Homo sapiens: one gene and its partners. The protein of the gene in region 4 purifies or fractionates together with the protein of the main gene of each other region. This does not show direct contact. Each region holds a gene or a part of one and is shown on either strand. Other genes may lie near its edges. The genes, in order: ANAPC2, MIER1, ANAPC16, C16orf87, CDC26, NEK2 and CDC27.

Region 1 (4,277 bases), on a different chromosome or scaffold from region 4:
GGTCCCTTTCCCCCTGCCCCTCTGGCTGCCTCAGGCTCTCCAGCGTTGCTTCCAGGCAAGGCCCCAATGGCCTCCCTCCAGGGTCCTGCCTTGGGTCCCAGGCATGACTCAGCCACTTCCTGTTGCTCAGGCCTGATGTGCTGGGACAGCCACACTCTAGTGCCCTTTGTCTTAACTTCAGTGGGACACAGGAGTGGCTCAGGGAGGCCCCGGGGCTGTGCTGAGAGGTCCCACCAGCAGAGCTCCTGGCCGAGCGACCTTGTTGGACACGTGGCTGGCCATGCAGCCCACAGCGTCACCCCTGAGCCCTTGCATGTGTCCTGCGGCAGGCTGACCAGTGGCGGCGTTTGTGGAGGTCATGGCCTTGGAGCCAGAACTAGGACCTAGCAAGCCACTGACTCCACTTCCATTTTCTGTCCATAAAGAGGGGTTTGTTTCCATTAGAAGCTGCCGGATCCTGGAAGGACTCAGGAGCCCTTGGCCCACAGAGCAGGTGTGTCAGTGCCCCAGTGCTACCAGAACAAAGTACCACAAACCAGCGGGCTTAAAAGAAACATATCATTTTACAGAAGTCAGAAGTCTAAAGTCAGGGTCAGCAGGGCCCTCCGAAGGCTCTAGGGGAGGCTGCTTCCTCCCCTCTTCCAGCTTCTGGGGGCTCCAGGAGCTCCGGGGCCTGTGGGTGCCTCGCTCTGGTCTCTGCCGCGTCGCCCGTGATGTTCCCCCGTGTCTCTGTTCCTATCTCCCTCTTAGAAGAACACTCTCTCTATTCCAGGGTGACGTCATCTTAATTATATCTTTAATGACCGTATTTCCAAATAAGATCTCATCAGAGGCACCGGGAGTTAGGGGTTCATGTGTCATTTTTCGAGGGGCACAATTCAGTGCATGACAATTTGCCCCATGGTGGGCCCCTCCCACGTGCAAGTGACAGCCCCAGTGTCCCCAAAAGTCTTCACCATTTCAGCATCAACTCCAAGTCCAAAATCTCATCTAACTACCATCCACACAAAGTTCCACACACATCTCAGCCTGTAAATGCATCTTAACGAGGTCCAGGTGAGGCTGGAGTGTGCGCCATTCCTCTACGTAAATAGATCTAAACAAGGTACAGGTGAGGCTGGAGTGCGCGCCATTCCTCCAGCTGGGACGCCGTGAAATCAGCCAACAGATGATCTGTTTCAAAAGTTCAGCCGTAAGACAAGCATACACATTCCCACCCCAAAAGGGAAAACTGGGAGGAAAAAGGACAGCGAGTCCAAACCCAGCAGCCGAAATTCCACTTGACTTCCAGGCCTGCGAATCCTCTTTGGCCCCCTGCTCCGTCAGCCTTGGCCTCGGCGGCTCTGCTCTTGGAGCCTGCCTTCCTTTCACTCCAGCCTGGCAGCACTTCTGCGGGTGTAAAATTCTCACACCTTGTTGGCTTATGCAGCTCACCAGTGCCGAAGCCTTCAGACAGGCGGGTCCGCAGCCCTTTCCCGGAGGCCCCACCTGTCCCTGTCTGCTGCTGAGATGGTTAGTTGGATACACAGGTCACACCTCATGTCTAGCAAACCCTGGTCCAGCCACACCCTTGGCCACGTCTCAGAGCTGCCTGGATAGAGTATTTTTCAGATCCCCAAGGGCTGGTGCCTTTTTGCTTAATGGTCCCTGCCTCACTGATTGTTTCCCTCTTGCATTCTGCTATAAGTAGCAAGGAGAAGCCAGGTGGCACCTTCCACACTGCTTGGAAATCTCAGCTTGATGTCCAGGCTCATCAGCTGCAGGTCCCACTTCGCACCCAACAGCAGAGCAGCAGCCAGCCAAGCTCTCTGCTGCCTCCTCCGGTTCCCAGTAGCACGGTCATTTCCATCTGAGACCTCACTGGAAGCACCTGTTGGGTCGGCATTGCTGCCGACATCCAGTCTGTGATGCTGTGTGCATTCTCCAAGACGGCGGCAGCTCTCCTCTTCCAGCCATTTCCAGGCTTGTCTTCATGCCTTTCTACCAGCAGTCGTGCAGGCCTCACCAGTTCTTCCAGCCTCTCCCCATCACCCACTTCCAAAGCTGCTGCCACAGTTCTTGGTGTTAGGTTTTGGCAGCACCCCTCCTGGCCCTTCCTGGTACCAAAATCTGTTCGTTTACTGTGGCTGCTGTAACAAAGTGTCACAAACTGGGTGGCTTAAAAAACAGAAATAGATTGTCTTAGTTTTGGAGGCTGGAAGTCCAAGATGAAAGTACTGGCAGCCCCGTTCCCTCTGAACCCTCTTAGAGACCTCCGTTGCCCCCCAGCTTCTGGTGTTTGCCACAGCCCTTGGTGTTTCTTGGCTTGTGGCCGCGTTGCTCCAGGTGGTCTCTGTCTTCGTGTGGCCCCCTCCCCGCCTGCCTGTGTCTTCCTATCTTTCCTTTTCTTAGAAGGACCCCAGTCAGTTGGGTTAGGATGCACCTCAGTTACATCTGCATCAACCCTGTTTGCAAATATGGCCACATTTCCAAGCACTGGGGGTCAGGAGGCCCCTGTAGCCTTTTCGGGACACACCTTATGATGCTGGCCCCATTGCCCTTCCATGGTGGCTGAGCAGGTGGGGACCCCACCCAGTCCTGTGCTCTCGCTGCTCACCTGCCTGCCAGGGTGGGGTGGGGCAGGTGGCTCTGGGAGCCCCTTTCTCACTGGTACCAGGTGGCAGAGCCCACGGGCCTGAGCGCCCTGCAGCCGAGCTGCCCGTGCTGACCCTGGCCCTCCTTAGGCCATGCGGACCCTCAGTTGGAAGCACACCCTGGGCCTGGTGACCATGGACGTGGAGCTGGCCGACCGCACGCTGTCTGTGGCGGTCACCCCAGTACAGGCGGTGATCTTGCTGTATTTTCAGGACCAAGGTGAGCCCACCAGCCCCTAGCTGGCCTGCCCCGGCCACACGGCCCAGCTGTGGGTGAGGGGCTGTTCCCCAGTGAGGGTGTGGTTTGGGGCAGCTGCGCCAGCAGGCGGCACCCTTCCCTTTCCCACGGGCAAGGCAGGGTGGCCCGGGAGCCCCCCGACCTCTCGGCTGACGGGAGGCAGGGGAGGTGCAGCCCGTGCCCAGGCTGCCCAGCGTCCCGGTGACTCTGCACGCAGCCAGCTGGACCCTGGAGGAACTGAGCAAGGCGGTGAAGATGCCCGTGGCGCTGCTGCGGCGGCGGATGTCCGTGTGGCTGCAGCAGGGTGTGCTGCGTGAGGAGCCCCCCGGCACCTTCTCTGTCATTGAGGAGGAGCGGCCTCAGGACCGGGACAACATGGTGCTCATTGACAGTGACGACGAGAGCGACTCCGGCATGGCCTCCCAGGCCGACCAGAAGGAGGAGGAGCTGCTGGTGCGCGTGCAGGCCCCACGGGGGGCCAGGGGGCGGGGGCGAGGCCTGCAGGTGCCTGACGGGGGCTGGCCTGTGTCCGCAGCTCTTCTGGACGTACATCCAGGCCATGCTGACCAACCTGGAGAGCCTCTCACTGGATCGTATCTACAACATGCTCCGCATGTTTGTGGTGACTGGGCCTGCACTGGCCGAGATTGACCTGCAGGAGCTGCAGGGCTACCTGCAGAAGAAGGTGCGGGACCAGCAGCTCGTCTACTCGGCCGGCGTCTACCGCCTGCCCAAGAACTGCAGCTGACACATCGCCCGCCCGCCCGCCCGCCCGCCAGGCGCTGCCCTGCAGGTGCTCTCGTCCTCCCGTGCCAGCCCCCGCCCGCCCGTGTCCCAGAATGCACTGCTGAGGAGCATGCCCACCCCCACCCCCGCAGTGTGCAGATTAAAGCAAGTCAGATCATCCTTTTCTGTCCTGGTGGCTTTGTGGGGCCCCCCAGGATCCTCCTCTAGCCTGGGCCTCTCTCTCAGCCTGGCAGGGCCTGCTCCTCAGCAGCAGGTGAGGGGCCACCTAGGCCTACACATCTGCACTGGGAATGTAGCCTCCTGAGAGAATCCCGGGCCGCCCCCGACCCAGGGTGCTCAGGGAGCGGCACGTGAAGGTCCACGTCACGCCCGGGCCACGGCTCAGGCAGCCACGTCCTAGGGCTTAGTGCTTGCTACCCGCCAGACCTCCAGCTCCATTCCTGCGCCTCTGGCCTTTAGAAGGAGCCCTGGGGTCACCCTCTGCTCAGCCTGTGCCCACCTCCACACGCTCGGCCAGGAGGTCTCGGGCGAGGTTGGGACGTTGTGCGGGTTCGGTTGGAATTGCTGAGGCTGGCGAATGACCTCTAGGCCAACACGCCTCGTCTCTGGCAGTGAGGCTCTGCCGAAGGCTGTGCCCTGGTGGCCAGAGGGACTGGGCA
Region 2 (3,500 bases), on a different chromosome or scaffold from region 4:
TTCATGGTTTCACAGGCACCCCAAAACAGATTTAGGAAGGAGGGTGAGATTTTGCTGTAGCAGACAGGACTGTTTGCTGCGAGTATTCTTTTTAAAACATTCAATATCTCTAATTTACAACTAAATTTAGATCTTAGATTTATTTTCATTTCTTTTGCTCTTGGTGGTTAAAGAATTGTATTTCCAGGCACATGAATTGGAGAACGTAGTACTTTCTGTTTCCCCAAAATGTGACTGCGTTTGTTCCAGTAGACTGAGAATCGGTACCTGGATTTTAGTCCTGGTGAGGTTCTTATTCTTAAGTGTTTGTTTCCTTCATGTTTAAGGAGTTGTGTGTAGCTGGATTTATACATTTTGTCAGTTAGTGTCTTCAGTGGACCCCTTTCAGTGAATATCGGGTAAGCAGCAATGTGCTACATAGGTAATGTGGTTTCTTCTTTCATGGTGTTGCTCAGGATGGTTTGAGCTTTGAGGTGTGTAGTCATATACTAAGGCAAGATATTACTGAAGGAAAATAGCTTATACAGAGAAATTTAAGTTAAAAAACTTAAATTTAAAATTTCTGTGTTTTTAAAAAATAAATTTTATTGCCGAGGGAACTAAAAAATCTAATATGTAAAAGAAATTATGTTAACTTTTTTGTTTTAAAAATTAAAGATGGTTGCGTTATTGTAAGATAAAGGAAAAAAATATTTTGATTCACTAATCATTTCCTAATATTTTCTAATGTATGTTTTAGTTTTCTTAAATATTTTATCAGTTGGAGAATGGAATGTTTTGTGGGAACGCATGGATTGTTCAACTGCAAGAAGGAAAGAACTGGAATTTTGTTTTTATTTGGTTTTTAGTGTTTATTTAATGACCTGGTATCTTTAAACAATTTATCTTCTATATTCTTCAGTTACTTGTAGATAGTTTCATGTATAGTGAATTGGGGAAGAGTTAGAGGAACTTTCGTGATCTGTGTCCTACAAAAAAATCTAAGACAGGTGAAGAAGTGAAAAGTACAATTGATTTATAGTTTTCCTGGCCTCAATACTTGAATAATTATGACGATTTTTGAGACCAGTGGTTTTAAACAATTAGACAAAGGAGAAATGCTTGGTTGGCTTTTACTTTGAGCTCTCAGTAGATTCATTCTTTATGAAGCCAATATAAAAGCATGTGATTAAATAATCCAGATGCTGAATTATTGTGCTTTTGATCAAATAAATCTGAGGATTTAAGGATAGCTTGTGAAGTAACAGTAAGTGCAAAGCAACAGTATATATCTATTTGTTAAATCTGAGGGGGAAAACAGGTTATTGAAGAAGTATGTCTCCAGAGAAAAATGTAGGTATTATGCTTCTGGGCTTTTAAAAAAAAAAATTGATGCTTCCTACAAGAGCATGACCCTGACCATGTTTTTCCAGAAAAATATTTAATTCTTGAATAGAAAGTGCTTTAGATGAGAATAGGATATACTAATTTTTTATATTTGATCTGATTATCTTAGTCCATAATAGGAAGTATATATTGGTTCTTCAGTTGTGATAACATTAAAGCCGTATTTAATGTACTTAGAATAAATAGCATATGCTCCCTTGCTTAATACTTTTTGGCAATATTTCTCATTGCTTATTATCCCTTAAAATTATTTACCAACCTTCTAAAAGGACGCTCTCCTAGTCACACTTGAAGGAAATTACAGGATAGTTGCAGTTTTACTAACTGCAAAAATAAGAGGAAAATGAGAGAAAAAATGAGAGGAAGAAATAGTTAATCCTTTGGGTTTTATAAGGAATGTACTAGGGACCTTTGGGAACGAACAATTTGTCTTGTATTTTAGCGTTTGTAAACACGTAAGGGACTTTCTTCTCAAGGAAAAAAATCCATGGACAATTCAAGACCTGTCTTTTCACCTAGGCCACATTTCTGTGATATAAAGAGAAAATTAATGGATTTGCTTCTTTCTATTTAAGTATTTTAGTACTTTCAAAGAGGGTATATAATCTGTTTATTCACTTTCACACCTATCCATTTCTCTTTAAAATGGACTCCTTGCTTAGTATTTTTTGAGTGTATTTGGATTTTTTTAACGAAGGATTATGTTAAATGTTACTTATGAAAACATTAATTTCTACTCTAAGCAAAATGTGTTTCACTGCAGTGAATTTAAGCTTCAAATAATTCTCGACACTAATAATGAATTTTTTTTCATGTTTATACTTCAGAGCTATTAAGATTTTAAAAGTAGTCAAGATCACCAGTGCGTGAGAGTCCTAAAAATCTTAATTCATTGGCAGTTAAGAGTTAGGGTACTTTAATAGGTGGGAAAGGTTTGGTGGGAGAAACAAGTGAATTACTTTAAGATAATTCTGGTAAGTGAGACTAACCAGTTTTCTAAATAATTCAGAAATAAAACACTGCCATTGAAGCTTAAGCATGTCTTTATGAAAAGTAATCAGCTATCTAGAAATGCCTGCCTGGCTTGATGTTCATTCAAAATTCATTGCAGTGATTAAATTGTTCAAGTACCAGTCATTGCTTGGGGCTTGTTCTGTTTGTCTTATTCTGTGGCTTAGAACAATAACTTATTATGTAGGTATGAAATTCATGAAGTAGCACCCCAAAAAATTGTTTTTGCAAATTGAGATTTTTTTAACAGTCCTAGATTTAAAAAAATAAATTTAAACATATCCCATGCATTTAGCTGCATACTCCTTAGTAGTGTTAGGTTTCTAGAGCAATTTATAATAAAAGTAAAGTTAGGTCTTGAAGAAATCTAAATCTTTTGATCATAGAGAAAATGAAAGTGAGCAGAGAGTTTACGTAGTTTGTCCTAGGTCGTGCAATTCATCTATGGCACAGTTTAGACTGGAACCCAGCCTTCTGTATTCCTAGATTCCTAGTGCTTATTTTCTTTTTCTTTCTTTCTTTTTTTTTTTTTTTTGAGACAGGGTCTCTCTCTGTTGCCCAGGCTGGAGTGCAGTGGCGCAAATCATAGCTCACTACAACCTCAAACTCCTGGGCTCAGGTGATCAATCCTTCCCTCAGAGCCTCTCAAGTAGCTGGGACTATAGGCATGTGCCATCATGCCCGGCTTTTTTTTTTTTTTGTGGAGACAGGGTCTCGATATGTTGATCAGACTGGTCTCGAGCTTCTGGCCTTAAGTGATCCTCCTGTCTTGTGCTGGGATTATAGGCGTGTGCCACTGTTCCCAGTCCTTATTTTCTATGATATCATTTTACTTCTGAATTATTAATACTGTAGTAAATTGCTAATTTTAATTTCAGTACATTCTTAACCTTTTTATACCCCAGAATTCCTGAGAGTAATAACAAAGTTAAGTAACTTAATTTTATTGGAGGAGAGGGATGGTGAGCCAGCCCTTGGCACGGTAACCATCTTTCACCCTAAAGTAGGACCCCTCTTTCCAGGCTTCTATCCCCATCTCCATTGCTGTGAGAATCTCTGACTTAGAGTCTACATAACTAAGTAGATGACGGCAATACTTAAAA
Region 3 (4,105 bases), on a different chromosome or scaffold from region 4:
CAATGAGGGATATTTAATACACTTAACCATCCAGAAAAAAAAAAGCCCCTAAGTACTTTTAGAGGTGCTAGAAATTCATACCAAACAATCAGTTCCAGTTGTCTGTTAAAGCACAGTTAAAATAACAACTTAACCAATATGGTTCTCAGACCAACATACTGCTGAAGGGGGGAATCCAATTTCCACAGGCCACTGCCCAACAAAATGCACATCGCTCACTGCGAAGCCAAGCTTCTGGTCACATCACTTAATGAATCAATAATTTAGGAAACAAAGGTTCCTTACAGGCTAGCTGAGGTTAAATTCAACCAATATTCCTACCACGTACAGCTTAGATAGTCTTGAAGCCCAAAATACTTAAAAGTTCCAAAGAAAACAAGTTGATCCTTACTAAATACACTAATGTTCAAGCCAACGTGGGCGCGGTGGCTCACGTCTGTAATCCCAGCACTTTAGGAGGCCGAGGCGGATCATCTGAGGCCAGGAGTTCGAGACCAGCCAGGCCAACATGATGAAACCCCGTCTCTACTGAAAATACAGAAAGTAGCCGGGTGTGGTGGCGGGCGCCTGTAGTCCCAACTACTGGGAAAGCTGAGGCACGAGAATGGCTTAAGCCTGAGAGGCGGAGGTTGCAGTGAGCTGAGATCGCGCCACTGCACTCCAGCCTGGGCGACAGAGCGAGACTTCGTCTCAAAAAAATAAATAAAATAATAATTGATGAGTTGTGCGCTTACAGAACCAAGAAGAGGTTTCGTGAGAAATAACAACACAGAAGGTAAACCGACATGGATGGAGGAAAAGGGCACATCATTAGCAATACTCGATGACATCACAACCCAGTGGCCTATTCCCCGAGGCCTCTAAAGTTCTCAACGAAAAAAGACTTTCAAAGGAAAAGCTTAAAAAAAAAATGTTCCCCACAAAAACAGACTAAGATGAAAGTCGGGCCCTCAGACCACGAGCTCCGGAAGAACAGGCAGTTGTCGCGGAGACAGCAAATGCAGCATCTACCTGTCCTACATGGCCCTGCGCTACGAGACTGCTCGGAAGGAAAGAGAGGAATAACCAACTTAACCCTGCTTCGAGGTGGTTTGGAGAGGAAGAGGAAAGCTGTGTCTTTCTGCAATATCGTGAGGGAAGCCGAGGCCCTGAATCATCAAAGAGAAGGAGAAGAGGACTAGGCGGCTGCAGGTAAACCAAGGTAGGGCGAGGAGGAGGACCCGGAATTCCTCTACGCGAGCGCGTTCTCTGCTCCCCTCCTCGCGTCTCCGCCCCGGCCACGCCCACCACGGCACGGGCGCGCGCACGCCGCCTTCGCCGCTGGCTCCGTCTGTTGGGGGGCGAACACGCCGCGGTCCTCGTCGTGGTGAGCGCAGCCACTCAGGCTGGTCCTGGGGGTGGGGCTGTAGGGGAAAGTGCTAAAGCCGCTGAGGTAAGAGGCCGAGGGGTCGAGGGCCCTCGGGAGCTTGGTGAAAAGGGAGTTAACCCCCAGGATCCTACCTGCAGGGACTAGAAAAATGGAGAAGGTAGGAGGAGAAACAGGAGACTGCTGCAGCAGACGTGCGATAGGAAATTTCCCCAGGCCGGGTTTGACCGAGTGCGCATGCGGGCCGAGGGCTGGCGCCTGCGCAGTGGGACAGCGCCGATGGCGTAGTTTCCTGGGGACCCAGCTGGGTGGGAAAAGTGGCTAGGAGTTAGCTTGGGAGCCGCTGGTGTTCTGAGCGCTCCCCTCTCTGGCCACTTTTTCTCCACGCCCACCCCCGCCCCGTTCCCGCCCCCCCCCCCCCCCGTTACAGCTGCGGCATCTATTTGGTTTGGGTTGTAATCCAGCTGTTTTGAAGTGGAACGATTTGTTGATGATGGAATTTAATGATTACTTGTAATAATTTGCCTTTGTACTAGGGTAGGAACTTTTAAGGAATTACTCTTTTTAAGAAAATAGGCATATATCTGTTAGAAAGGAAAGGAATTTATATTCATAAATATATGAATGCGAGGTCATCCCTGCCGTACATGAAGTAAATGTTTAAGCATCTTAGCTCGGACACAGCAATCTGTGTCCACAAAGCATCGTTACTCTCCTGTGAGGATCTCCACTGTCAGCCCCAACTTACCTGACAGGGCCAAGTCCCAGGATACTTCATCATCAGTATTTGTTTGACAAAATTTTACTGGGCACCTCCGGTGGGCCTGGCAAACTGGTTGAAGATAGAGTTGTGCGAATAGATCTGCACAATGAGAAAGAAAAAAATCCATAATGATCCAATACTCATGACACAGCGCTTCTCTATCTCCTGCATGACCTTTGCTGAGCTGCTCGCCCTGCGTTCTGTCGTTTGTTCATCATTCATTCATCCGAAATGCTCGGGACTGGAAGCACAGTGGAAACACTGCCCCAGGTTCTGTGCTCGGCATTGAGGGTAGAAAGACTTTTCGAAGGTGGCAGGGTGTTTCTTAAGATCATTGAACCTTAAAATGAAAGTGTAGGCCGGGCGCGGTGGCTCACGTCTGTAATCCTAGCACTTTGGGAGGCCGAGGCGGGCGGATCACGAGGTCAGGAGATCGAGACCATCCTGGCTAACACGGTGAAACCCCGTCTCTCCTAAAAAATACAAAAAATTAGCCGGGTGTGGTGGCGGGCGCCTGTAGTCCCAGCTACTCGGGAGGCTGAGGCGGGAGAATGGCGTGAACCCAGGAGGCAGAGCTTGCAGTGAGCCGAGATCGCGCCACTGCACTTCAGCCTGGGTGACAGCGAGAATCCGTCTCAAAAAAAAAAAAAAAAGGAAAGTGTAAAGTGCTTAATAGAAGGCACTGGCCCTCCTCCTGAACAGATTCTTTCTCCTGTGGGAGCTTGCTGACTCTGTTAGATGGAGAGAATTAATACTTTTCCCATGAGGTTTTTTCATAGTAAGTATGAAAACCTGGGATCTGCATAGGAAAAAAGACTCAGTAGTAACTCTCCGTTAATGACTTTGAATAGCCAAGATTTATGAAGTGTTTACTAAGCCTGTAACTGTTCCAAGTGTTTTACGTGTATTAACTAATCTTTGTCACACCTGTGTGAGGTAGGTGCCGTTATTACAGGTTGAGTATCCTTAATCCAGAAATCCAAAATCCTCCAAAATTTAAAACTTTTTGAGCACTGACAGGATGGTCAAAGGAAATGCTAATTGGAGCATTTTGAATTTTAGATTTTCGGATTTGAGAGGCTTAATCATTAAGTATAATGCAAATATCCCAAAACCTGAAAAAAAAATCCGAAATCCAGAATACTTCCAAGTCCCAAGCATTTCGGATGAAGGGTACTCAACCTGTTTCCCATTTTGCAGATAAGACAACTAAGGAACAAAAAGATCCCGGAGGGGGAGGCGGAGGTTGCAGTGAGCCAAGATCGTGCCATTGCACTCTAGCCTGGGCAACAAGAGTGAAACTCTGTCTCAAAAAAAAAAAAAAAAAAAAATATATATATATATATATATATATATATATATATATATATATATATATATATATGCCGGAGGTTGCAATTTTTTACATTTTTGGCATCAGACCTTGGCGATGACCTTGAGCAGTAGGGTATAAATAACTCCCACATGCTTAGCGTTCCAGTAATGGAACACTAGGCATAAATGGGTTAAATGATGTGTCCACAGTCATGCAGCAAGTAAGTAGCAAAACCAGAACTCAGAGAGGCTTCATAATCTTACCCATTATGCTGCTTTACGTTGCACATGACAAATAACATACCAACAAGCCATTGCTTCAAAATGTCACAGCAGATAAGCTAAAATTGTCTCTACACCTCAGTTTTATTTTTTCATATATAAAATGGGGAAGTTGGGTTAGATGACCTTTAAGGAATCTGTGGTTTCTGTGAAATATTTAATTCACTCAGCAAACATTTACTGAAGTGAACAACTACTTCCTTACTATAGGCCAGGTGTTATGTTTGGTTCTGGTGATCAGTTAATTCCTGCCCTGAGAGCAGTTACCATCTAGGGTTTATTAGTTTTGCTTTACTCTCATTTACCACTTGCTGGTAGCATTCAAAATTTAACCTAAATCTTTAGAGCTAGAAATTACTTAGGTATATCCTTCCACCTCA
Region 4 (4,123 bases):
TTTTTTAAAAATGAAGGCAAAAACAGAAGCATACACAAAAGATACCAGAAAACTGACAAGAATCTTGAGCACTGATGCACACAAAATGGCTCAGTAATTTTGAGTGATTGATGGATATGAAACCCCTTGAAAATGAAAAGGACTGTGGTTTAAGATGTTTTAGAATGATATGTTCAATAGAAGCCTGCAAAGGAGATGTTACAAAGCAGTTGAAAATCTAGCTTTTTCTTCTTTGCTGATCTCTGTACCCATTTTTCAAACTTACACACCCACATAAGTAAATCTAGTCAACTGGGAAATCTCAAATTTAAAGATTTTACATTTATGTTTATAAACTATACCTAAATTCGAATTTAATTTTTTTTAGGCAACTTAGAATCATAGCAGTATTCTAATGTTTAGAAAATGGCTTTCTGGATTATAATCATATTCTGGCTTATAACTAAAAGAAGCTAGTACTTTTAAATAATGAGAAAGCTAAAATTCATCCATTATTTTTTCACATCAGGTTCATATCACCAAAAGTTTTAATTAGTCCTTATGTATGTTACATTCACTTAAGTATTTGGAATAAAGGACAAAACAAACCAACTCATTAAATTATGTACTAGTTTGCTCTGGGTGGAATTATGCACCCCTCGACATCCAAATTCATATATTGAAGCCTTAACCGCAATGTGATGGTATTTGGAGATGGGCCATTTGAGAGAGAATTAGGTTTAAATTAAGTCATGAGGGTGGGGCCCTCATGATGTGATTAGGGACCTTTTAAGAAAAGGGAGAGAGCTTGACCCTCTTTCTGCCATGTGAGGACACCAAGAAGACAGCCATCTGCAAGCCAAGAAGAGAGCCCTCACCAGAACATAATCATGCTTTTGTTATGGCAGCCAAAGCTGGGTAAGCTGATTTTATATGAAAGAATAAATATGGGGGAGGGGGTGTATAACAAAATGAATGTGATCTTTCCAAATAAAACGCTGATCTTGTTTTGTTGAACAGTTTTTCAGAAACTCCTATAAGTTTATTATCCTTTGCTCTTTTATATAAAAATAGCCATAAAAAGTGGCTATTTTTCCCAAAAGGTTGCTTTATGCCAATTAGAACAAAGTCAGGATTTGCAAATACTTGTGCCTTACAGAAATTGGAATGCATAACGCATACCATGTAAACCTTACACTTCTACACAATTAACTGGAATAATTGGAAATGATTTAAACACTGAAATAATCTCCCGCAAAGAGTCATATTGCAAAGTCCAGTTTTGTCAAAATTTAACAAATTTAGTTCAGTAGTAAGAATGAAAGTAACTCTTTGGAAAACATGACTAAACTGTTTTTATACTGCATACTGGTATAGCTCCTACACTGTATTTCTTGCACAACCTTTTTCTGATAAGCATTTTTACTACAGCCCATAAAGGATACTTAATAAAACATGTAACATGTTTTCTGTTAAAAGATTTGAAAAACCTACAAGAATTCTCCTTGAAAAATGCACTAAAATCAGCTTATTAAAAAGTCTCCAGCCATTTCAAATTACTCTTGATTTAAAAAAAAAAAAAGGCGGTGGGGGGAGGGGAGGAGAGAAAGGTAGTCATTTTGAAAAAATCCACTCAGTGGAAAAGGAAAAAACACACCCAGATCTACATGTTGGTAACAAACGAGGGCCTTACGAATGGTTTTAACTGAAGTAGTTTTAACTCATTAGATGTTAAGGCTTAAAGGAATGTCTATTATTCCAGTAAAGAATTGAGACACGCTTCAACACAGCGATCACTGAAATGAGATGTTTTAAATTACAACTATTACACCATGAACTCAATGTAGAAAGGAATCGTTTCAAATTCAAGAAACGAGATAGAGAGATAGAGAGATAGAGAGAGACAGACAGAGAGAGAGAGAGAGAGAGAGAGAGAGAGAGAGAGAGAGACACACAGAGACATTCAGACAGACAGGGATACAGATCTGGAAGCAGACAGGCCAAATTTGTAACAGTGGATACTGCGAGGGGTGGGGAAGTTAGGAGCGCCCAAAAAGGAGGAAGGGCTTAAACAGGGGCTTTATTCAATCATGACCCATTAAAAACGATGTAAAGGCAGGATTCGCGATTGCACAGCAAAAATATAATAAATAGATGAGGAAGGGGAAAAAATCTCCAAATTCGCCGAAACTCAAAATCATTACACGCGGCCCCCTTTGTCCCACTCAGGCGCCCGCCCCGGTCGCGGAGGGGCCGTTTTGGGGAAGCCCCGCACCCGTCGGAACCGGGAACAAAGCCGCCCCGGCCGCAGGAGGGGTTCTCGGAGCTAGGGCCTGGCCTCGGAGGCGGGCGTGCGGCACACTCTCGCCGGGGCTGCGGCCCGCAGGCTCCCACCGCTGTCACCGCCGCCGGCGAGGAGAGTCTGGGGCTCCAGACAGCCGCCCGGTGAGCCCACCAAAGGCGCGCTCCTCCAGTGGCCGGGACACAGCAAGAAGGGGCTTGGCCGTCTGGCCGCCGCCAGGTGGACGCTGGCGGGCCACGGCCCCGGGCTTTTCCCGGGAAACCCCTCGGTGCAGCCCGACCGGCCCCGGATCCCCGCCGCCGCCGGCGGGCCCCAGGATCTGCCCACCGCTCGGCCTCCGGGAGCCCGGCGAGGCCCCCCTCCACAGACAACGGCCGCCAAGCCACTGCCGCCCGCCCGCGCGCCCGGCCCCCGGCACCCACCTGTTGGTCGCACTCGGGGCATGATTTGGTGGCCATCTTCACTTTCTTGGCTCGAGTTGCAGACATGCTCCTCTCCCTTAGCGGCGGCAGCAGCGACGGCTCGGGCTCCTCCCCTCACACTTCGGCAGCCCGGCCTCCGCCCGCCCAGTCCCCGCGGGCCTCAAACAAGCCTCTGGCGGGTGCGCGCGCGCGCGTGCGCGAGCTCGCGCGGGACCTGGGCGCCAAGGGGGCGGGGCGGAGCGTCGGCCGGCGGCTCCTGGGGACCGCGACACGCGCTCCCACGGCGGCTCGCGACCCACAGCCCGCCCGCGAGCTCGCCCAGAGTATCACGAGACGAGGGGAGACCTCCCCCCCCTCCGCCAGACCGCCCCGGCGCGGCAGTGGCCACGCCTCCTCTCGGCCTGGCCGACTACGAGGGGGCAAGGCCTGGGCGGGACTCGGCAGTAACGGGCGTCGAGTTCGACCAACGAATGCATAGGTAGGGCGGGCCGTAGTGCTGGGCACGCCCCATCCCCACAGAGACCGTGGGAGCGAAGGCTGGGGAATGAATGGTGAAGGGCGTAGCGTGGATCCTGGCATTTAATAAACTTAAGTAGATGTTACCAAGGCTAATCATTGAGAAATTATGATAGACATTTTATGAGACCACTGGACCCAGCAGCAGAGTGAAAATTCATTTATTTATTCAATATATAATTGCCTAAGTCCCACTGTCAGGAAAATTTGAATAAAATGCAGTGTCAGCCTTCAAGGAGCAGCCTAGCTGTGTAAACCAGTGCTACTCACTATCAAGATGAGGGATCAGATGTTTTTCTTTTTCCAATCTGTCCGTGACTGATACTTACTAAATTAACATTAAAATTAAATTATTCGAGGCTGGGCGCAATGGCTCACGCCTGTAATCCCAGCACTTTGGGAAGCCGAGGAGGGCGGATCTCTTGAGCCCAGGAGTTCCAGACCACCCTGGGCAACATAGCGAGACCCCCATCTCTACAAAAAGTAAAAGATTTTTAAAAATTAGCTGAGCGTGGTGGCCCATGCCTGGAGTCCTAGCTAGTAGAGAGGCTGAGGTGGGAGGATCGCTTGAGCCTATGAGATTGAGGCTTCAGTGAGCCGAGATTGTGGCCACTGCACTCCAGCCTGGGCGACAGAGCGAGACTCCGTCTCAAAAAAAAGAAAAAGAAAGAAAAAGTGAAATTTAAAAACAACTATGCAAAACGTAAGCTTACTTTTAAATATTTAATTTGACAGACCCAAAGTTATACTTAATAAACAATCAGAACAAACATAACAGAAAGAAAATTTACAAACTGTACACTTGGCTCAGAGAAAATTTACCAATATGCATTTATTACAGAGACTGGCTATTCCACTGATAACTTTTTATTCAACAATTGTTAACTAAAGCAAAGTTATGAGT
Region 5 (3,040 bases), on a different chromosome or scaffold from region 4:
CTGGTTTCACTTTAGGGCATGACTGTCCCTGCTTCCTAAGTTACTCTAAAACAAGGTAAAACCCACTAGATAACTGTCTTTAGTGGAAAGACTAACTCAATAGTGAGCTGACTGTAGAGTCAAAGTTCAGCATGCTAGCATTTTATGAGATTCGTTACAACTGAAGTTTAAGCCATACTTTAAAGCTCATGCTTAATAATATATGAGTTTTTAGAAAGCAAAAATTACGATACTTAGAGAACACTAAAGTCTCTTGGGATGAAGCAGGGGGAAAGAAATCTAAGTTATTAGTCTTAATATGAAGCATATACAATACATAATAAAGCTGTTGGTGAATATATGCAAAACGTACTGTCCTCTGCCATATAGTACAAGATACCTACTAGGACAGCAAATGAAAATAGACTTGCATTGAGCCCTCCTTTGGACCTGGTATTGCAGGGAACAGATGCAGAGAGAAATATACTAATCCCTGACTTCAAGGAGCTTATGGCCCAGTGAGGGAAAACAAAAGCAAACAGACAATTACAACAGAGAGTGACCGTGCCTATGAGAGAGGTTAGCACAGGAGGATAAGGTTGAGCCTAACCCAGCTGGGGGCTGGAAGGAGTAAGAGTTAGCCTGGCAAAGAAAAAGAAAGGGCTTTTCTGGCAAAGGGAACACTGTGTATAGGCACTGAGATTAAAGATAACCCAGCAGTGAAAGTGGAGAGATAAGCAAGGACCAGCTCACAAGGAGCTCATATGCCATGCTAGGGAATTTGGAATTTATTCTGTAGACCACTGAAGAATTTAAGTCTTATTAATGGACATCTAATACCATGTAGCAAGGCCACAGTTAAAAATACATATGGGGCCCCTACTATGAACTAGATGGTAAGAACTCAATGGTGAAGCAAACAGACATGATTTCTGCAATCAACGTCCCTAATGTAAATGATTTTACAATAAAAAAAATTGTAAATTATAATAAATGCTATGAAAAAAATATGGTGCTTTGTGAGAGCCTACAGAGATGGAGGCAGCATGGACGGGAATGACACATGAAACTTGGATACGGTCAAAAGTGGCCTCTTAAATTGAAGAGTTGACATTTGAATGAAGACTGGAAGAAAGGGAGCACTCCAGGCAGGGGGAAATAATATGTGGAAAGTCCATGGAAGTGATAAATAGATTGGCATGTTCAAGGAAATGAAAGAGAGCCAATGTGGCTAGGGTATAGAGAGCAAGGCAAAGAATGGCACAAAATGAATCTGGAGAGGCACTAGAACATACAAAATCTTGTAGGCCATGGTGAAGAATTCAGATTTTGTTATAAGTGCAGAAAACTACTGAGGAGTTTTAAACGGGAATGACAGGATTTGAAAATTTCTGAAGATCATTCTTGATACTGGATGCAGAATGCACTGAAAGAGACAAAAATGGAAGTAGAAGACCAGTTAGGATGCCACTACAATTATACAGGGAAAGACGGTTACTTAGCGCAGGACTGTAACAGTGGAGATGAAAAGGTATGGGTGGATTCCAGACATATTCTGAAGGTAGAATCAAAGGGTCTACAGACAGATCGAATATAAAGCGTAAGAGAAAGGGAGGACTCAGGAATGACTGCTAGGTTTCTGGCCTGAGGAACTGAATCAATACTGAGATGGGAAACACTGGGGAAGAATGGAAGGGACGACTGGTTCAAGGGAGAAATCAAGAGTTTTTCTCTCTTCTTTTTTTAACATGTTAAGTGTAGTAGGCTGAAAAATGGCCCCCAAAGCTAGCAGGTCCTAATCCTGGAACCTATAAATGCCTTATATGGGAAAAGGGCCTTTGCAGGTGTGACTAAATTAAGGATCTTGAGAAGGGGGGATTATCCTGGGTTAGTCAGGTGGGCCCTAAACACAATCACACATATCATAAGAAGGAGGCAGAGGAAGTTTTCACAGACAGAAAAGAAGACAATATGACTCTGGAGGCAGAGACTGGAGTGATACAGTCATGAGTCAAGGAATGCCAGCAGCCACCAGAAGCTAGAAGAGCCAAGGAATGGATTCTTCCCTAGATCCTCCATAGGGAATGTGGCCCTCCTGACACCTAAATTTCAGCCCAGCAATACTAATTTTTGGCCTATAAAACTGTGAAATAATAAATTTCTGTTGTCTTAAGCGATGAAGTTTGTGGTACTTTGTTACAGCAGCCACAGGAGACATACATGAAGTTTGAGATGCCTGTAAAGCATCCAAACAGAGATTTCAAATAAGCTGTTGGCTTAAGAGTCTGCAGTTCAGAAGTTAAAGTTATTGTGTATGTATGTGTGTGTATATACATATTTATGTATGACAGAGAGTCTCACTGTTGCCCAGTGTGGAGTACAGTGGAGCCATCATAGCACACTGTAACCTCAAACTCCTGGGCTCAAGCAATCCTCCCGCCTCCGCCTCCTGAGTAGCTCAGGCATGCGCCACCCTGCCCAACATAGAGACAAGGTCTCACTATGTTGCCCAGGCTGGTCTCAAACTCCTGGCCAGAAAATGCTGGCATTACAGATGTAAGCCACTGTGCCCACACAAGAATTATTATCTTAAATATTCCTTAAGCTTTGAAAGTTGTATTCATGGCTGGGTGCAGTGGCTCACGCGTGTAATCCCAGCACTTTGGGAGGCTGAGGTGGATGGATCACTTGAGGTCAGGAGTTGAGACTAGCCTGGCCCCAACATGGCAAAACCCCAACTCTACTAAAAATAAAAAAATGAGCTGGGCGTGCTGGCATGAACCTGTGGTCCCAGCACGCGGGAGGCTGAGGCAGAGGAGGCAGAGGTTGCAGTGGGCCAAGATCATGCCACTGTACTCCAGCCTGTGTGACAGAGCGAGACTCCATCTCAAAAAAACACAAAGTTGTATTCATACCTCCAGGTCCTTTCGAATGTTCTCAAACTCTTCAATGTCATCAAGCTTTAGCTCTAGGCGTGTTGGTTTCCGTCTCAGCATACTGAAGTCAACACTAAGGGCCAAACCCAGTGAACTATTAGCTGTTAAAAATGAAAGAGAGGAGG
Region 6 (3,977 bases), on a different chromosome or scaffold from region 4:
ATGCATCATAGTCATTCCATAAAAGCTTGAACTGAATATGCTTTAATTTGCATGAATGCTCAAAAAATTGAACCCAGTGAGAGATGACAAACGGCGCAAACCTTAGACTAGGAATCTGTCTTCATCATACTTACATTAATGCACATAACTCATGCAGCAAACAAAAACTGATATAGACTTTATTGGTCTGGTGGTCCATGTGGAAAAATATAACAGTATTTTCAATTCTTGGCTACTAGATATTACTAAACAAACAGAAAACTCAATTTCCCTGCTTCAGAATGCTTAACATTAAAAGATGTTTTGGCTGGGCATGGTGGCTCACGCCTGTAATCCCAACACTTTGGGAGACTGAGGTGAGCAGATCGCTTGAGGTCAGGAGTTCGAGACCAGCCTGGTCAACATGATGAAACCCTGTCTCTACTAAACATACAAAAATTAGCCAGGCATAGTGACATGCACCTGTAGTCCCAGCTACTCTACTTAGGAGGCTGATGCAGGAGAATCCTTTGAACCTGGGAGGCAGAGATTGCAGTGAGCCCAGATCGCACCACTGCACTCCAGCCTGGGCAACAGAGCGAGACTCTGTCTCAAAAACAAACAAACAAGAAAACAAAAATAAAAGATGTTTTAAAAAGTAGCTAAATTCTGAAATACTTACAGGAGACATGTAATAAGGTGTGCCAACAAATGTTTTTGCAAAACTCGTGTCATGGTTTAATATTCTAGCTAGCCCAAAGTCTCCAAGCTTGACGTTTTGCTTGCCATCCAGGAAAACATTGGCTGGTTTCAGATCCCGATGCAATACGGTATGACCACCATCACTTCGTCTGTGGCATTCCTTCAGGGCCAGAGTCAACTGAGTCATCACTCGAAGAACAAACTCTTCATCTAAGTATTGCCTAAAACCAAAGCAGTTATACAGCATATAACTTCTAAAAAAATCATTGCCAAGATGGGATGATATAAATTATCCAGTGTACAAATAGGGAATTTATTTATTTATTTATTTATATTTTTTGAGACAGGGTCTTACTCTGTCACCCAGGCTGGAATGCAGTGGCACGATCATGGCTCACTGCAGCCTCGACCTCCCAGGCTCAAGCAATCCTCTTGCCTTAGCCTCCCAAGTAGCTTGGACTACAGGCACATGTCACTATACCTGGCTAATTTTTGTAGAAACAGGGTCCCACTATGTTGCCCAGGCTGGTCTTGAAATCCTGGGCTCAAGTGATCCTCCCGCATCGGCCTCCCAAAGTGTTGGGATTACAGGTGTGAGCCACCACACTCAGCCTATAAATTGTTATTTTGATATAAAATATGGGTGTTGATTCACCAGGAATTTTCTAAAGTACTGTGGACCTACCAAACAAATACAAATACACTCTTCCATATTACTGATCCTAAAACAAGATGCTTAAAATAAATGAAACTAGACCAATTTCAGCTTACATTTTTAAAAGATTATGCTTACCTTTCCTTGGTTCCCTTTGTAATTACACTAGCCAGATCCCCTCCTTCACAATATTCCATTACAATGTACAGTGTTGTATTGGTCCGGTCAATAATCCGATCATAGTAACGAACGATGTTTGGATGTTTCAGTTCACGAAGCAAATTCACTTCAGAAACAAGCATCTGTTTCTCAGCTTCTGTCATGGAGCCATAGTCAAGTTCTTTCCAAACTAATATCTGAAATAAGAATTTCCAAGGTATGAATGAACTCATTATGCTCAAAAACAAAGAATGAAAGTTCCAAGATTTAACAAATTACCTCCCTTTTAATTATATCCTACAATCAAGGTCATTATCTAATTTAGTTCAATGAACTTAAGGAGCTGTGAGTTTACTTCCATAATCTTCCTCCAGTTCTAAGCAGTAAATGTATGTTGTGGGGAGACAAACGGGAATGAGGCACATGAGGACTCCCCCAACCCCTACCCTCAGTTGGTTAGTGGGAAGTTGGCTAAAAGGTACTATAGTCAAAATTGGGGTGAAGGTGGTCAAAGTCCCTGCCCCATTCCACCCCAGTCGTGTTTTCCCAGGATGAGACACCTTGGTAAAGATCCCTCCATCAGCAGCCAGGCAGTTTCCTGTCCAATGTTACTTTCTGTAAAAGTTCTACCTATATACATTGGGAAATATGAATCCAATAATCCTAATAATGGATATTTTGAGGGAGTCTGACTGCAGATACAAAGCTTCGGGTTCTGGTAGTCCTGCCCCTTTCTTGTGCCTGAGAGGGCCACTCTTAGAGCTCTAAAAACAGCTCAGGAATTAGTTACCTGTCACCAATGGAAGGTCCTTAGCAAGCCAAAGCAGGAGAAAGAGAGAAATGGGGAGAGAAACGGGAAAAGATGGAAATACATATATCAAAAGAAGCGGTCTCCCATCCTTTAAGCCACCCAGGACAGGCTGTCAGATGCAGACCCAGGAAAGACGGTTTAGTCTTCCGGGCACCCATTTCCTCAGCCCTGTCGGTTCCCTTCGGTGGCGCAGGGCGCTCGCCCCGAGGCGACGAAACCTAAGCAGGGGCAGGCGCAGGGTAGGTCCCACGCTCACCTTGCCATCACTCTTCCTCCGGATCTTCTGGCAGCGGCCGTAGGAGCCTGTGCCAATGGTGTACAACACTTCATAGTCCTCAGCCCGGGAAGGCATGGCCGGCCAGTCGCCAGAGTCGCGCTGCCTCACGCAGGTTGCGCCGCCAAGTGCGGAGCTCCAGGGACCAGGAACTCCAGGGACCTGGATGGAGAAGCCCCCGAGCAGCACTGACCCGCCACCCCTGCCTTGGGCCCCGTTTAACCGTCGCGGGCCCTGATCTCGCAGTCTATTGGCAGGCGGTGGGCCGCTTCGCCTCTCTCATTGGCTAAGAAGAACACAACAATACCCTAGGCATTTTGGGAAAAGTGTCACTAGGCAACCGCGTCGGCGTCTGCTTTTAACCTGTGGGAGAACCCGGCGAGCTAAGCCAAACGGAGGGCGGGAGAGAGGAAGCGGCAGCTGGCGCCTCTCGGCAACTCTAACCCTCTGATAGAGATCGCCAAGGTAACCGAGATCTAAGGTCCTCCCCTCAGGCTTCTTTGCACACCGCTTCCACCAGATGCCTTCTGACCTTTGCACTCTGGCCCCTCACACTACCTACTCTCCCCGGCACACGCATTCCTCGCTCAGGTTCCAGTACCCTGAACCTGGGTGGGGTCACGTTGAGGATATGCTGAGAGCTGAATACAAATTAGAAATACAGACTCCCGGGTGGGCGCGGTGACTCACGCTCGCCCGTAACCCTAGCACTTTGGGAAGCCGAGGTGGGTGGGTCGCTTGAGCCCAGGAGTTCAGACCAGCCTGGGCAACAGGGCAAACCTCGTCTCTACTGAAAATACGAAAATTAGGCCGGGCGCTGTGGCTCACGCCTATAATCCTAGCACTTTGGGAGGCCGAGGCGGGCGGATTGCTCGAGGCCAAGAGTTCAAGACCAGCCTGGCCAACATGGCGAAACCCCGTCTCTACTAAAAATGAAAAAAAAAAAAAAAAAAGTAACAGAGCATGGGGTTGCAGGCCTGTAATCCCAGCTTCTTGGGAGGCTGAGGCATGAGGAATTGCTTGAACCTGGGAGGCAGAGGTTACAGTGAGCCGTGCGCCACTGCACTCCAGCCTGGGCGACAGAGTGACACCCAGTCTCCAAAAAAAAAAAAAAAAGGAGAAATACTGTCGCTCTCCTACCAAGTACTTTACACGTCTTGTCCCGTTTATGTGTGCCAAATACACAATTAACCCTATCGACAATACTTCATTGAACACAGATTCTCTTTTACGCACCCACACACCAACGTTCTCAGCTTACCCAGCCAAATGAACAGCCCCATGTTTACCAGGGAAGGAGGACTTAGAGGCCTCCATCCAGGGCTTGTTAGAGGAATATGTAAATTACCAGAAAGCTAATAATTTGGAAATGCATGAACAGGCCAGTTTTCTTTAAA
Region 7 (3,500 bases), on a different chromosome or scaffold from region 4:
AGACAGAAAGTCTTATTCATTGCTACAAAACCCATGTTTCGATTATGGTCCTTTACTGGTATGTAGCATATACACAGACAGGCAAGAGCTGTGTTCGGAAAAGCCATTTAAAAAATTATTTCTAATTTATTGTTTCACAGCTACTTTAACATAAATGAATTTTATTGTTTCCCCTAGTTATAGTGGTGACCCAAATATTTAATTAAAGAAAGCCTCTGTTTCAACTTAATTTCTGAGTTTTTTTCCCATTTTTCTTTTTGTCTATGCCATAATCATTTTTCAGAGGAAGCAACAGATTCTGAAAACTTTGAAACCAAAAGGTACCTACCTATATTTGGCTGGTAGGTCTTTTATCTTGTTACCATGCCTGAATGAAAAACTTGGCCAGGTGTGGTGGCTCATGCCTATAATACCAGCACTTTGGGAGGCCAAGGAAGGGGGATCACTTGAGCTCAGGAGTTGGAGACCAACCTGGCCAATGTGGTGAGACCCTGTCTCTACAAAAAAATGAAAAAATTAGCTGGGTGTGGTGGCACTCACCTGTGGTCCCAGCTACTTGGGAGGCTGAAGTGGAAGGATCACTTGAGCCCTGCAGGTCAAGGCTGCACACTTACCTTTATAACTTTTAAGAGATTGCAAGGAAGTTACAAATCGTTAAGCTATTCCTATATATCATATGACCACTTCTTGGAATTAAGCACTCAGTTTTAAAATGCTCTTATTTTCTGTCATACTCATTTCATTAAGAATAGTCCAGATATTCCTTATTATAAACTAAACTGTGAAAATTTCTTTTCCTTTCTTTTTTTTTTTATTACCTAGACCTTTTCTGGCAGCTGAGAATTTTGAACTTGGTAAATTGATAAACTAGGAAACTGATTTTATATAACCTAAATCCTCAAACTTTAGAGGGAGAGAAACACAGTTCTGGGAGCTGTGAATGTGATGAGGAAAAAAATTGATGAGGCAGCTGAGGAGAGACCCTGAAGTCAAGAGAGTGCTGCAAAGGAAAGGATAATTAATAGGTAGGGCCTATGATTCCTAGCAGACACAATATTGGTGTGTATATTCAGGGCTCAATAGGATTTATAACCATAGGATTGATAGCCAGCTTAACCTGTTTCTTCCCTCTAAATTTTCTGGCACAACCTCTCGGTAAAAATTGTTCAAAAATAGATTTTATGTTACAGAAATCATTCTTCCATCATCTTTCCTAAAAGAGTTATTCTGGCCAGGTGTGGTGGCTCATGCCTGTAATCCCAGCACTTTGGGAGGCCGAGGCGGGTGGATCACAAGGTCAGGAGATCGAGACCATCCTGGCTAACATGGTGAAACCCTGTCTCTACTAAAAAATACAAAAAATTAGCCAGGTGTGGTGGCAGGCGCCTGTAGTCCCAGCTGCTTGGGAGGCTGAGGCAGGAGAAGGGCGTGAACTCGGGAGGCGGAGCTTGCAGTGAGCCGAGATTGCGCCACTGCACTCCAGCCTGGGCGACAGAGTGAGACTCCATCTCAAAAAAAAAAAAAAAAAAGAGTTATTCTGTAATGCCATTATTAAAACTTGGAAATGAGGTTTTTGAGAAGGAAATATTGACTTTTCTTTTGAATTGTAGCTTTGTATAGATTTCTCTTCGGTCTTTTTGGTAGAAACTCAAATTTCCTTTTCAGAGTTCATGTTCTTACCATGGCTTGTATATAAATACTAGGTTGACTGTCAATATGGTTACATCACTATTTGACCTGCCATAGTAGATTGCTGAATTTGTCCTTGTGTTAATACTCATTCACATAAAAACCATAATACAAGGCAGCATTTAGATCCTGTGAAGATAATGACCAGGGCTTTCCCTGTGTATATATATAAATTGTATCAACTTGTTTTCTCTTACTAGTTTTTTTTATTTCAGGCTGAAAGAATATTCTCAGAGGTTAGAAGGATTGAGAATTATAGAGTTGAAGGCATGGAGATCTACTCTACAACACTTTGGCATCTTCAAAAAGATGTTGCTCTTTCAGTTCTGTCAAAAGACTTAACAGACATGGATAAAAATTCGCCAGAGGTATGTTAACCAAAATACTTTGCTTATATAGTTACCTTTTTGATCACCCTCAACAGATAGAGATGAACCAAGCAATTCAAACACTATTTAGTGTCACCCACGCTTATTTCTTTTTTTTCCTCTCTCTCTAGTCAGGGACTCAGAGAGGAAGAGAAAGTCCTAGAATGTGTGGTGCAGATTCACAAATAGAAAAATCACAAAGCAGCTATTTCATTCAGGATTTATCGAGATTTGACTACGTTAAATTTGCTGTTGTCACCAAGATTAGGGTTCGTTGAGCAGAAGTTACATAGATTGAAAAAATTAATAATTTTAAATTAAAATAAATTAGTATTGTCATTGTAAGACATAGGTGCAATTAATGTACATGCTCTAATCTTGTAAGATTGTATTTCATTGCATCTCAAAAATATTTAATGATACTTTTGTAACATATCTAAGCTTAGAATTAAACACAGTCAACTCCCATTATTTGCGGTAATTCTGTAGTCAACATGAACACTGAATTAGTGCTACTGAACCAATGTTCCTGGGAGTGATGGAGAGTTTGAAACAGAGATAGATTGTGGATTATAATCTTGAATCCTAAAAATAACTCATCCTGGTAGATCCTATTTTCTTTACAAAAGAGAGAATGCTGCTGGGTGTGGTGGCTCACACCTATAATCCCAGCACTTCGGGAGGCTGAGGCAGGCGGATTCCTTGAGCTCAGGAGTTCCAAGACCAGCCTCGGCAACATGGCAAAACCCTTCTCCACAAAAAATACAAAAATTAGCCAGGTATGGTGGCTGGCATCTGTGGTCCCAGCTGCTCGGGAGGCTGAGACAGGAGGATCACTTGAGCCTAGGTGGCGGAGGTTGCATTGAGCCAAGATCACACCACTGCCCTCCAGCCCGGACAACAGAACAAGACCAGATCTCAAAAAAAAAAAAAGAGAGAGAATGAGGTTCAGAGGTGACTTGCCTGAAGCCATCCTACTTAAAAGTGCCAGCAGTGGGATTCAAATTCTGTCCAACTGTCCCCAGAGCCAAAGCTTCTTGCACTACACTAAACTAGCCCACAGAGTTTCTGTCCCTGGTCATCTCTGCATGAGAGCTAAAACAAGAAGGTAGAGTCACATTATTCAACCTCAAATGAGAACATACCTTTTGATGACTATGAAAGCACTGCAAGTATTGATTTTGGTTTTACAAATAAATTTTAGCAATCAGACAAATTCACAAATATGGAATCTGTGAATAATTAGAATTGAGTATCTACTGAAGCTCCTCCATTTTTGTCTTTCTGTTCTAAGTTGAGGCTTGATTTTAGTCATAGATTTGGTTTTAGAAAAAGTAAAATTTTAATTCTGTTTGGTTTTTGTTCCCATTTTTTTAAGGCCTGGTGTGCTGCAGGGAACTGTTTCAGTCTGCAACGGGAACATGATATTGCAATTAAATTCTT

The links.
Region 1: the proteins of C16orf87 (region 4) and ANAPC2 purify together in Homo sapiens (co-immunoprecipitation; 3 studies listed by BioGRID and IntAct, with this or other methods). This does not show direct contact.
Region 2: the proteins of C16orf87 (region 4) and MIER1 purify together in Homo sapiens (co-immunoprecipitation; 3 studies listed by BioGRID and IntAct, with this or other methods). This does not show direct contact.
Region 3: the proteins of C16orf87 (region 4) and ANAPC16 purify together in Homo sapiens (affinity purification with mass spectrometry; 2 studies listed by BioGRID and IntAct, with this or other methods). This does not show direct contact.
Region 5: the proteins of C16orf87 (region 4) and CDC26 purify together in Homo sapiens (co-immunoprecipitation; 2 studies listed by BioGRID and IntAct, with this or other methods). This does not show direct contact.
Region 6: the proteins of C16orf87 (region 4) and NEK2 purify together in Homo sapiens (affinity purification with mass spectrometry; one large-scale study listed by BioGRID and IntAct). This does not show direct contact.
Region 7: the proteins of C16orf87 (region 4) and CDC27 purify together in Homo sapiens (co-immunoprecipitation; 3 studies listed by BioGRID and IntAct, with this or other methods). This does not show direct contact.

The regions. Positions count from the first base shown.
Region 1 is NC_000009.12:137,174,284-137,178,560, reverse strand, and holds the end of ANAPC2 (anaphase-promoting complex subunit 2), read left to right. Parts: intron 1-444; coding exon of another isoform or gene 445-493; intron 494-779; exon of another isoform or gene 780-2,723; coding exon 2,724-2,853; exon of another isoform or gene 2,854-3,045; coding exon of another isoform or gene 3,046-3,088; coding exon 3,089-3,324; exon of another isoform or gene 3,325-3,406; coding exon 3,407-3,619; 3' UTR 3,620-3,777; downstream 3,778-4,277. UniProt on the Homo sapiens protein: Together with the RING-H2 protein ANAPC11, constitutes the catalytic component of the anaphase promoting complex/cyclosome (APC/C), a cell cycle-regulated E3 ubiquitin ligase that controls progression through mitosis and the G1 phase of the cell cycle.
Region 2 is NC_000001.11:66,931,490-66,934,989, forward strand, and holds part of MIER1 (mesoderm induction early response protein 1), read left to right. Parts: intron 1-3,500. UniProt on the Homo sapiens protein: Transcriptional repressor regulating the expression of a number of genes including SP1 target genes. Probably functions through recruitment of HDAC1 a histone deacetylase involved in chromatin silencing.
Region 3 is NC_000010.11:72,214,707-72,218,811, forward strand, and holds the start of ANAPC16 (anaphase-promoting complex subunit 16), read left to right. Parts: upstream 1-1,305; 5' UTR 1,306-1,432; exon of another isoform or gene 1,433-1,570; intron 1,571-2,114; coding exon of another isoform or gene 2,115-2,147; exon of another isoform or gene 2,148-2,428; intron 2,429-4,105. UniProt on the Homo sapiens protein: Component of the anaphase promoting complex/cyclosome (APC/C), a cell cycle-regulated E3 ubiquitin ligase that controls progression through mitosis and the G1 phase of the cell cycle.
Region 4 is NC_000016.10:46,828,381-46,832,503, forward strand, and holds the start of C16orf87 (UPF0547 protein C16orf87), read right to left. Parts: upstream 2,801-4,123; 5' UTR 2,770-2,800; coding exon 2,704-2,769; intron 2,669-2,703; exon of another isoform or gene 2,255-2,668; intron 1-2,254.
Region 5 is NC_000009.12:113,269,533-113,272,572, forward strand, and holds part of CDC26 (anaphase-promoting complex subunit CDC26), read right to left. Parts: intron 3,017-3,040; 5' UTR 2,976-3,016; coding exon 2,895-2,975; intron 1-2,894. UniProt on the Homo sapiens protein: Component of the anaphase promoting complex/cyclosome (APC/C), a cell cycle-regulated E3 ubiquitin ligase that controls progression through mitosis and the G1 phase of the cell cycle.
Region 6 is NC_000001.11:211,672,822-211,676,798, forward strand, and holds the start of NEK2 (serine/threonine-protein kinase Nek2), read right to left. Parts: upstream 2,801-3,977; 5' UTR 2,659-2,800; coding exon 2,563-2,658; intron 1,693-2,562; coding exon 1,475-1,692; intron 903-1,474; coding exon 662-902; intron 1-661. UniProt on the Homo sapiens protein: Protein kinase which is involved in the control of centrosome separation and bipolar spindle formation in mitotic cells and chromatin condensation in meiotic cells.
Region 7 is NC_000017.11:47,137,296-47,140,795, reverse strand, and holds part of CDC27 (cell division cycle protein 27 homolog), read left to right. Parts: intron 1-1,904; coding exon 1,905-2,057; intron 2,058-3,435; coding exon 3,436-3,500. UniProt on the Homo sapiens protein: Component of the anaphase promoting complex/cyclosome (APC/C), a cell cycle-regulated E3 ubiquitin ligase that controls progression through mitosis and the G1 phase of the cell cycle.